3 linked regions of the Homo sapiens genome follow. The protein of the gene in region 3 purifies or fractionates together with the protein of the main gene of each other region. This does not show direct contact. Each region holds a gene or a part of one and is shown on either strand. Other genes may lie near its edges. The genes, in order: BRI3, KCNQ1 and BACE1.

Region 1 (3,647 bases), on a different chromosome or scaffold from region 3:
TGACCGCAGATGCCAGGAAGAAAAGGGAAGAGGAAGCTCCCCTGAGAGGCCTGAGGCCACTGGCTCCCTCCAGCTCCCCCGGAACCTGTCATGGCCATCTGTGGGGACACAGCTGGTGCTTGGCCTTCCCGAGGCTCCCCCACCTCGACTGTGTGGTCTTGGGAGCTGTGGCACCTGGGGGAGAAGGTCCTGGAGCCAGGCAGGGCGTGCTGCAGTCGGCAGGGCTGGGCGGAGGTGTCCTGCCCAGTCTGGACTGGCAGGGGCAGCCCTGGGCAAGGCTGAACAAGTGTGGTGGCCTGACGACCTTCTGGGGCTTAAATAGGGGACACATTTGTAAAAGCCCACACAGGAAGTAGAAACTTTCCTGGCAGACTCTGGTCTTCTGCTTGGCTTTGCCTTGGAGCTTCATGGTGTGCCCTGCAGCCCAGCTCAGCCCCTCCACACAGACAGGTGGCGTTGTGTGAGTTTGGGAAACACTGGGTATAAGAGTGCTGCAGGACTTCTCAGAGCCTTTTGAGAACGAATGGACATAGGGACTGTAGGAGAAAAGTTTCCCAAAATCGGCTGAACAATCCCCCTTTTCCAAATGCATACCACTGTGTCTGGCTAATTTTAAATTTTTGTAGGGAGGGGTCTTTGTTGCCCAGGCTGGTTTTGAACTGCTGGCTTTAAGCGATCCGCCTCAGCTTCCCAAAGTGCTGCAGTTGCAGGCGTGAGCCACGGTGTCCTACTCCACTGGAGATTGCTGAAGGGACCTCCCTGAGTAGGCTAGAGGGAGGCAGGTGGGCATGAAGTTTTTTTCTTTTTTCTTTTTTTTTGAGACGGAGTTTTGCTCTTGTTGCCCAGGCTAGAGTGCAGTGGCACGATCTCAGCTCACTGCAACCTCTGCCTCCCAGGTTCAAGCAATTCTGTTTCAGCTTCCCGAGTAGCTGGGATTACAGGTACCCACCACTACGCCCAGCTAATTTCTGTATTTTTAGTAGAAACGCGGTTTCACCATGTTGACCAGGCTGGTCTCGAACTCCTGACCTCAGGTCATCCACCCACCTCGGCCTCCCAAAGTGCTGGGATGACAAGCATGAGCCACTGCACTTTGCAACTTTTTCTTTCAGCAGTGGAAAGCCCGACTTCAGAATATTCTGGTTTATTTTTCCATAATCCCCGGAGAAGCAGGGAACAGGTTCTGTGGGTGGGGTTTGGGCTCCCCAGCCTGCTTTGCCCAGCAGGGGTGGGGGCAGTGGCCCTCATGAGTCCAGACCCCCAGGAAGCAGCTGGAAACATCCAGGGGGCTGGGATGGGAGTAGGGTCCCCCAGATGGCCAAGTTTTCTCCCCTTAGCAAGGCACAGGTAGTCATGCTTCCCTGTCGCAGGCAGGCGGCTGCACTGCCTTGCTGTAGGCTCCCCTTCCCCCCTAAGCACCAGGTCCCATCATCTATCAGACAGCCCCACCCTGTTGTGTTTTTCTGTCCACTCACTCCAGCACTGGCTGGATGGGGGGTTTGGGCCCCCAGGAGGCCCAGAAGGAGCCCGTTGGGGTCTGCCTGTCTGGTGGGAGCAAAGCTTTTCTCATTTGGGCTGAGCTGGCTAGTGTGGTTAATTTCAGCTGTGTCCAGAACTTTCCAGAAATAGCCTAAGGAGCTGAGCTGAGCACTAGGCTTCTGGCTTCCTACTTTTAGGGCCTCTGAAACTGACAGTTGGGTTCGATGATGATTTCAGGTCACTGAACCTAGGCTCACTGGCGCAGGATTTGAGGGATGGCCTGCAGGTGTCTTTAGTCTGTTACAAACATTGAACTTTGTTGAAGAGGCGGCTTTGAGATCACATTTCTCAAAATAAGTGGCCTTCAGACATTGTGTGAACATGGCCGACTGTAGTCTCCCATTAACCCACCCCCGCTACCAAAGGAACGGAAATCGAATAAAAGCCCAAACCTGACTGGATCACTAAGCTGCTAGTTGCTCCTTTTCTAAGAGCAGATGTATGTGGCTTGTGGCACCAAAATGATCATGCCTCTCAAGGTTGTTTTTTTTTTTTTTTTTTTTTTTTTGAGACGGAGTCTCGCTCTGTCGCCCAGGCCGGACTGTGGACTGCAGTGGCACAATCTCGGCTCACTGCAAGCTCCGCTTCCTGGGTTCACGCCATTCTCCTGCCTCAGCCTCCTGAGTAGCTGGGACTACAGGCGCCCGCCACCGCGCCCGGCTAATTTTTTGTATTTTTAGTAGAGACGGGGTTTCACCTTGTTAGCCAGGATGGTCTCGATCTCCTGACCTCATGATCCACCCGCCTCGGCCTCCCAAAGTGCTGGGATTACAGGCGTGAGCCACCGCGCCCGGCCATCTCTCAAGGTTTTACTTTTTGAGATGGAGTCTCGCTCTGTCGCCCAGCCTGGAGTGTAGTGGCTTAATCTCGGCTCACTGCAACCTCTGCCTCCTGGATTCAAGCGATTCTCCTGCCTCAGCCTCCCAAGTAGCCGGGACTACAGGCATGTGCCACCACGCCTGGCAGATTTTTGTATTGTTAGTAGAGACAGGGTTTCACCGTGTTGGCCAGGCTGGTCTTGAACTCCTGAACTCAGGTGATCCACCCGCCTCCGCCTCCCACAGTGCTGGGATTACAGGCGTGAGCCACCACACACCCTGCCTTGCCTTTCAAGGTTAACTGATGAGTCCTTTCAACTGTTTTATTCTTCCCGTTTTCTTTGAATGTTACATGTAGTGATTAAATAACTATGGCCATTCCATGAACGGGTACGTGCAGCTGGTTCTTGGGGCTCTCCAGGCCAGTGGGCTGTAGCTGGGTGGTGGGGTGGGGGGCTGTTTTCTGTCACTCGCCAGAGGTCCCCATGTGACTCATGGCCACTGGTTGGTTATTGAATGCAAGGGTGGCAGGGGTGAGGGTTCTGGCTGCCCGGGTCCTTACGGTGCCACCCTCTCTGCCCGTCTCTGCTGCAGGGTTGGGGTGCTGGAGGACTGCTTCACCTTCCTGGGCATCTTCCTGGCCATCATCCTCTTCCCCTTTGGGTTCATTTGCTGTTTTGCCTTGAGGAAGCGACGATGCCCCAACTGTGGAGCCACCTTCGCTTAAAGGGAACACCAGGCCCGGCTTTCCTACACCCAGCTCTCTTTTTCTAATGTAAATGTTGTGTACAATAATTTTATTTGATTAAGCTTCAGGACTGTTTTGTAAAGCGAGGTGGGACCGATGTGGCACACGCCAGCTGCGGTTTCCCGGAGCGTGGAGAGGCAGTGCTGCTGCTCCCGCCCGAGGCTCATGACAACTCAATAAAGCACTGCTTTTATTTTTTGCAGTCTTCAATTTGAGAAAGGTGAGAAATAATGTTTTCAATAAATGAGATTCATACCATTGTTGACCTGGTGCTGCTTACTCGGTGCTTTCAGAGACCCAGGAAAGACTGGAACGACACCCCCATCGCTCCCCCGGCCAGTCCTGACCACAGTTGTATTCAGCAGGCGCTTACAGCTCAAGAAAATGTTTTCAAGTTCTGCTTTATTATTAAAGTTGTAATCCCTTGATATTTACAGAGCAGGCACCTCGGTGCCAAGGACCAGGCCATGCCCGTTCTGGTCTGGGAGGCAGAACCTGGGGTTGGGTGAGCCACGGGGTCTGCAGGTTGCATCCGAGACCCC
Region 2 (3,647 bases), about 110 Mb from region 3:
CAGGCCCGGGTCCTGGCCTGCTGCGGATGGTGATGCCTGCGCACAGAGGCCCTGGAAGGCTGAGCAGCTTCAGCTCATGTCCATAGGCAGTGGAGCCCAGGTGAGGCTGCAGCTCTCAGGCCAGGCCCACCCAGGCCAGAGGAGGCCCCACACCAGGAACCCCAGCCTTGGCCAGAGGGGGCCCCACACCAGGAACCCCAGCTTGGGCCAGAGGGCGTCCGACGCCAGGAACCCCAGCTTGGGTCAGAGGGGGCCCCACACCAGGAACTCCAGCTTGGGCCAGAGGGCGTCCGACGCCAGGAACCCCAGCTTGGGTCAGAGGGGGCCCCACACCAGGAACCCCAGCTTGGGCCAGAGGGCGTCCCACGCCAGGAACCCTAGCCTGGGTCAGAGGGGGTCCCACGCCAGGAACCCCGGGTGCCCTCCGTGATAAGCACTTTCCCACCAGATCCAGCCCCGGAAAGCCTCACAGCTGGCCTTTGAGCCTGGTGTACCTGCGGTAGGGGCAGCCTCTGGATCACTTTGCCCTTACAGGGAGTCACCTGGCCCCTCCACACCCCAACACCTCCTCAACTCCACCGACACCAGAGGGCGGAGGTTCCTGGAGGAGTGGGAAGAAGACCCTCGGAGCTGGATCCCACCCCCTAGGCACAGAAGTGGAAAGCTGGGCCTCAGTTTCCTCAGCTGTATAGTGTGGATGCAGCAGGGCCAGGCTCAGTGGGCTTGGTGGGGACTTATTGCCAAAATGCAGCTTTCATGTGAAGTGCAGCCCATTGTGACACTTAAAGTGCAGCGGCCACCTGCAGGCTGGAGCCCAGCGCCCAGGCAGCCGGGGTGTACGGGAGGCCCTTGGGGAAGGTGTGTGGGGCTGGAAGATGAAACCAGCCCCCACGTGTGAGAGGCGCTAGCCACACAAAGCCACAAAGCCACAGGCATACGGCGTCTCAGGCCCACTTCCGGCGGACTCCTGCCTGTCCTCCCTCAGAAGCCGGGCCCTGGAGGGGACTTCTGCTCCCACTGGGTGACAGTGGCTGGCCTTGCTCCCATGCCACGCCCCCACCAGGGAGTCCACTATGAGCAGTCAGCTGGACACTGCCATCGCTGGCTCCCAAATGTTATTAATTAGGATGGAATGATACTTACACCATCCGGCATGTGTTTGGGACAAGCCCAATGGATAAGGGGAGACACGCTGGGAGCTTAGTTGCTTTCCTTTTGCAAAAATGTTTTTGGCTCATGACGTCAAATCCTTCAGGGGTGTGTGGGTGTGTGCGGACAGGTGCATACTGGAGATGGCAGGGGTGTAAGGTAAAGAAAGGGTGTGGGCCAGGTGCGGGGGCTCACGCCTGTAATCCCAGCACTCTGGGAGGCCGAGGCAGGCAGATCACGAGTTCAGGAGTTCAAGACCAGCCTGATCAACATGGTGAAACCCTGTCTCCACTAAAAATACAAAAATTAGCCTGGCATGGTGGCGCACGCCCTGTAATCCCAGCTACTCAGGAGGCTGAGGCAGGAGAATCGCTTGAACTCGAGAGGCAGAGCTTGCAGTGAGCCGAGATCACACCATTGTACTCCAGCCTGGGTGACAGAGTGAGACTCCATCTCAAAAAACAAAAAACGAAAAACAAAAATCAAAAAACAAAAACAAAAGGTGTGGACACCTGCAGGCTCTGTGGCCTCATGGGGGGGGTGTGGGTCCCACCTCTGTCCTCAGCTCCTGGGGACCAGGGCTCTAGGCTGAGGTCCGGCTGAGCTCCTTAGAGAAGAGGCTACCTTGGTCTTATCCACCCCCATTTCCCAGGCCCCAGAACAGGACCTGCTCCAGTCAGTGCTCAACATGGACATGCTGAATGAACGAATGAAGGAACAAATAAATGACTATTCCAATGAGCCGGCCTAGGGCTCTCTGGTAGCAGGAGCTCTGTCTCGTCGGTCTTTGCTTCTGAGAAACTGCCCGTTAGGGAGACCGGGCCTGGACACCATAACACCCGCCTTTGTTTGGTCATCGTGAAAAAGGCCACGGAAACACAGAGCTCCAAGTCCCCGGAGCTGAGACAGGGTGCCCATGACGGCACAGAGGCCGGCTCACCCGACTATTGGTGGCCTTGATGGGGAGGCATAGCGGCTCCCAGCCCAGCTCTGCTGACCCATCCACCACCCAGCAGACTGGCCCTTAGCAGGGTTTTTCTTGTTTTGATGCACTTTATTTATTTATTTATTTATTTATTTATTTATGAGACAGAGTCTCGCTCTGTCACCCAGGCTGGAGTGCAGTGGCGTGATCTCGGCTCACTGCAACCTCTGCCTCCCAGGTTCAAGCAATTCTCCTGCCTCAGCCTCCTGAGTAGCTGGGACTACAGGCGCATGCCACCACGCCTGGCTAATTTTTTTGTATTTTTTTAGTAGAGATGGGGTTTTGCCATGTTGGCCAGGCTGGTCTGGAACTCCTGACCTTAGGTGATCTGCCTGCTTCGGCCTCCCAAAGTGCTGGGATTATAAGCGTGAGCCACCGCGCCTGACCTTGTTTTGATGCACTTTTAAAATTACTTAAATACCTTCTCCAGGCATGTCCTAGGCAGGTCTGAAATGATAGGTGTGTCTTATGTTATACCCTGAAATAGATAAGTAACTATTAAGGATTGCTGTGGATAGCTGCGTGTCTTTTTAAAGTTATTTTGACCTAACACTCAGGGAACCTGTTTAGGGGCTGGCCTTCGAAGATGGCAGGACTCCTGCCTGTGGGACAAGGTGGTAGGAATGATTAAAAACAACACTGATCCCCAAATCCAGCTGGATGTGGGAAGGCAGTGCAAGGCTGCATGGCTGGGGAGGCCCCGCTTGTCAGGTTAATTAGGCTGGTGCTGCTAGCAGGCCAGGAAAGAGCCAAGGAAAAGTCCCCTCACCATCTCTAGGCTGGAAACAGCAAGATGGAATGTTTGCTCAGAGATAAAACTATCTCCACCACCATCAGCCTCAAACGCTCTCCTGGGCTGTGTGGGACAACACCCAGGGCCAAGGCCACAGCAAGACCCCAGGGAGCTCACACTCAGCTGGGGACAGGGAGGAGGGCTGGTCCCCCACGCCATGCCATGGCCCACCCCTGATTCACGGGACCACATCCCCAGTCTAAAGCAGGCTCACAGAATGGCAGGCCTGCCTCCCCCTGGTTCCAGCAGTCCAGACCCCAGGTGGGTGATGCCCCAGCCACCCTCCTAACCCTGGGTTCATCTGTATTTGCAGACTTGGTCCTAAGTTCCAAAGGTGAACTAAAGGGGCCTCAAGCTCCTCCCCAGAACCTGCACACATTTGGTACTTCTCCCTTGCCCACCTTGCTCAAGCAGCTGCCATAGCTCCTGCTGTCCACACTGAGGGTGACAGTCTAGGGCTGTCCCTGAGGCCTCCTTCCCAGGGGCTCACCGCCCAGTCTCCCCCAGAGCCTCCCGTGGGCCCCAGGTGCCCCCCATTCCCTGGGGCACCCCTGCCTCCTCAGGACCCTGTGTCAGGAGTGCTCTCTCCCTCCCCCACTCCACCCCCTAGGTTACCCCACCCTTCTCAGGCCAGCTCAGCACCCCCATCACCCCCAATCCCTCTGAGAGCCCCATCCACTACAGGTACAGAACCGGGGTACTTCCTGACTCCCCCACTGA
Region 3 (3,647 bases):
GGCTGGAGTACAGTGGCGTGATCTCGGCTCACTCTAACCTCTGCCTCCTGGATTCAAACCATTCTTTTGCCTCAGCCTCCCAAGTAGCTGGGACTACAGGTGCCTGCCACCACGCCTGGCTATTTTTAGTAGAGATGGGGTTTCACCATGTTGACCAGGCTGGTCTCGAATTTCTGACCTCAAATGATCTGCCCCCGCCTTGGCCTCCCAGAGTGCTGGGATTACAGCCACGCCCGGCCGCTTTTAACTTTTCTTAGTACATTTATATCTATTCTAATTTAACATACATAAGAATCTAGGGAAGGAAGACATAAATGATTTAGTTACCTTTTATTGAGTACTGCCAACCACAGAGATAAACACTTTACACATTATCTCTGATATTCTGAGAAAGTTGTTTTTACCTGTTTTGCAGATAAGGAAACTGAGACACAGAATAGTAACTGGCCTAAGGGTACATAGCTAGTACAAATCAGAGCTAGATTCAGATCTGGGTCTTCCTGACTCCAAAGACAAGACTCTTCATTCTATCACCCTGTCTCACAAAAGACTTGCCCAAGGCTACGAAGCAAGGCAGTGACTAGAGTCCAGACATCAGAACTAGTTCCATGTTTTTTTTTTCACTACCAGTCCCTAGGCCCCAAACCGCAGATCCTGCTGTGTGACCATTAAGCCCCTGACTGTTCTAGGCTCAACTTCCAACCCTTTCTGCAGGTCCTATTACCTCTGCCTCATCCTCCCAACATGATAACCAGAGTCTTCCTTCACATTGTACTGCCTACCCCCTTATGTTCCCAGGCTCTCCCTTGGTTTTCTTACCTCCTTGCAGTCCATTTTCAGATCCTGTCCATTGATCTCCACCCGCACAATGATCACCTCATAATACCACTCCCGCCGGATGGGTGTATACCAGAGACTGCCTGTGTACAGCGAGTGGTCGATACCTCCAATGATCTAGGGAAAAAAAGAGGCAGGTACCCGTGTCCTGGCACAGAAGGAGAGTGAGTCCCCCAAGGACCAAGCAATAAGATCAGTGATTTCTTGGGGTGGCAAGGTCTTCTACAGGCTACCCTTTTCATCTTCCTGCTTCTAAACAAATCATACCCAAAGTGATTTCTAGTTTCTTAAATGTGTTCAGGAGAAAAGACTTTCCGGGATTTTTAATTATTTGTTTCAGAATCATACAGCCCTTGATATAAAGTTATTTAAATCTAAACTGCCACAATAAATGTTGAATGAATGGTTATTTGTTTATATTATAAGTTTTATTTTCTCTGCTTATTGGAGAACCATTCACCATTGTTCTAATTAATTAATAAATAGACAAACTTCTTATATCTCTGCCTTCTGACCATCAAACTGAATAATTTTAATTCAACAGGTCTTATTTTCATTTCCTTTGAAATTTTCCTAATTGCCTTCCTTTCCAAGTTTACCATAGGTGCCTTGATTCCTTTCTGGAATAACGCAAAAAAGAAAAGAATGGAAAAATAAAGTAAGGGTAGGGAATATAAAGAGGTTCCTCCTGATTCTAAGTATCGGAGCCAAAACTGTGGTGTAGCTTTCAGGAAGGGGAGAGGATGGCACCCATCTCTCCCTCAATGCCAGGACCTCCCCTCTCTGAGGACCTACTCACCATGCTCCCTCCGACAGAGGCCAGCACTTCAGACTGGTTGAGGGGGAAGCCAGCACCACAAAGCTGCAGGGAGAAGAGGTTGGGAACGTGGGTCTGCTTTACCAGAGAGTCAAAGAAAGGCTCCAGGGAGTCGTCAGGCTTTGGCAGAAAGAGACAAGGAGTGAGTCCTCATACGGCCCTAAAGGCAGAGGCCAGCTTCCTGTCTAAACTGGAAGGCAAATTTGAAGGCTTGGGGGATGCTCCTTGGGAAAGACCATCTTAAGGCACTGAGATTTGGCAGAGGAAGGGTTAGCAGGAGCCCTGGCAATGCAAACAGGACAGTATTGATAGGTTCACAGATTCATAGATCTTTTTTTTTTTTTTGAGACAGAGTTTTGCTCTTGTTGCCCAAGCTGGAGTGCAATGTTACGATCTCGGCTCACTGCAACCTTCACCTCCTGGGTTCAAGTGATTCTCGTGCCTCAGCCTCCTGAGTAGCTGGGATTATAGGCATGCGCCAACATGCCCGGCTAATTTCTGTGTTTTCAGTAGAGATGGGGTAGATGGGGTTTCACCATGTTGGTCAGGCTGGTCTTGAACTTCTGACCTCAGGTCATCCGCTCGCCTTGGCCTCCCAAAGTGCTGGGATTACAGGTGTGAGCCACCACGCCTGGCCAGGTTCATATATCTTTGATCCCCCTATGCCTAACCTGCTTCAAATTTATGGGGGCCTTTATTAAAGATCTTAGAGTGGCTGGTCGCGGTGGTTCATGCCTGTAATCCCAGCACTTAGGAAGGCCGAGGTGAGCGGATCACCTGCGGTCAGGAGTTCGAGACCAGCCTGGCTAACATGATGAAACCCCATTTCTACTAAAAATAGAAAAAATTAGCCGGGCGTCATGGTGGGCGCCTATAATCCCAGCTACTCGGGAGGCTGAGGCAGGAAAATCGCTTGAACCGAGGAGGTGGAGGTTGCAGTGAGCCAAGATTGCACCATTGCACTCCAGCTTGGGCAACAAGAGTGAAACTCCGTCTCAAAAAAAAAAAGATCTTAAGAGTACATAGAAAGCACAGCCTATTCTTGTACCTATCACAGCTTCTGTCACTATGGTTCTGCCCTCTATAGGGCTAAAATTTAGACTGCCACCCTATACCCCTGTTAAATAATCCTTTAAACTGATTGTTGCCCTCCTTCTGCTAATTCCCCTTCTCTCTCCTAATTCCTTCTCTGTATAGTGCAGTGTGCATAGAGTGTGTAGGGCCAAGCCCTGTTCCTCTCACCCTGGCAATCTCAGCATAGGCCAGCCCCAGGATGCCTTCCCAGTTGGAGCCGTTGATGAAGAACTTGTCTGATTCAGTGATGGCAGCAATGTTGGCACGCACAGTGACGTTGGGGCCATGGGGGATGCTTACCAGGTCGGTGCCCAGCTCCCCTTCCCACTTGCCCTGGGTGTAGGGCACATACACACCCTTCCGGAGGTCCCGGTATGTGCTGGACCTGTGGAAAGAAGGCAGAGATCTGTGGATGCATAACCACAACTGGTATAAGGATCTAAGTTAAACTTACTCCCAAACACCACCTTATCTCATCTCAGGGGAATCCTAGAGTCTGCTTTCAGGCTGCTCAGCAAAACATCCCTAGACTCACCACCCAGAACAGAGTGTAAAGTGGGCTTGCAGATAGATGAAGGGAACCATTGGTGAGGCTTGCTCTCCTATCTATTGCTCATATTCCTAGATCTTGAGCTCAGGCCCTGTGAAGAACAAGCCTGGGCTTTGTGCATTGTGCCTGCTGCTGCTGCTGCTGCAGGGACAGCTAGTGGGCATCTCTTCCGCCCTCTGGCTCCGTCAAGCTCCCCGAGAAAAGGAACCATTGACTCTCTTACTGCCTTGGAACCTAGTGGTACCATCCGAGTGGTAGAGAAAGTGCCAGGCAGGGTGAATGTGGAACCTCTACAGCAAGTTCTAGAGAAGGGGTTTGTTCAAGCATCTCAGAAAAGCAGGTTGGTATTACACACCACTTCTGTGAAAC

The links.
Region 1: the proteins of BACE1 (region 3) and BRI3 purify together in Homo sapiens (affinity purification with western blotting, with the first as the bait; one study listed by BioGRID). This does not show direct contact.
Region 2: the proteins of BACE1 (region 3) and KCNQ1 purify together in Homo sapiens (affinity purification with western blotting; one study listed by BioGRID). This does not show direct contact.

The regions. Positions count from the first base shown.
Region 1 is NC_000007.14:98,288,160-98,291,806, forward strand, and holds the end of BRI3 (membrane protein BRI3), read left to right. Parts: intron 1-2,951; coding exon 2,952-3,084; coding exon of another isoform or gene 3,085-3,131; 3' UTR 3,132-3,386; downstream 3,387-3,647. UniProt on the Homo sapiens protein: Participates in tumor necrosis factor-alpha (TNF)-induced cell death. May be a target of Wnt/beta-catenin signaling in the liver.
Region 2 is NC_000011.10:2,566,861-2,570,507, reverse strand, and holds part of KCNQ1 (potassium voltage-gated channel subfamily KQT member 1), read right to left. Parts: intron 1-3,647. UniProt on the Homo sapiens protein: Pore-forming subunit of the voltage-gated potassium (Kv) channel involved in the regulation of cardiomyocyte excitability and important in normal development and functions of myocardium, inner ear, stomach and colon.
Region 3 is NC_000011.10:117,292,235-117,295,881, forward strand, and holds part of BACE1 (beta-secretase 1 isoform A preproprotein), read right to left. Parts: intron 3,340-3,647; exon of another isoform or gene 3,314-3,339; coding exon of another isoform or gene 3,264-3,313; intron 3,114-3,263; coding exon 2,897-3,113; intron 1,775-2,896; coding exon 1,637-1,774; intron 955-1,636; coding exon 820-954; intron 1-819. UniProt on the Homo sapiens protein: Responsible for the proteolytic processing of the amyloid precursor protein (APP).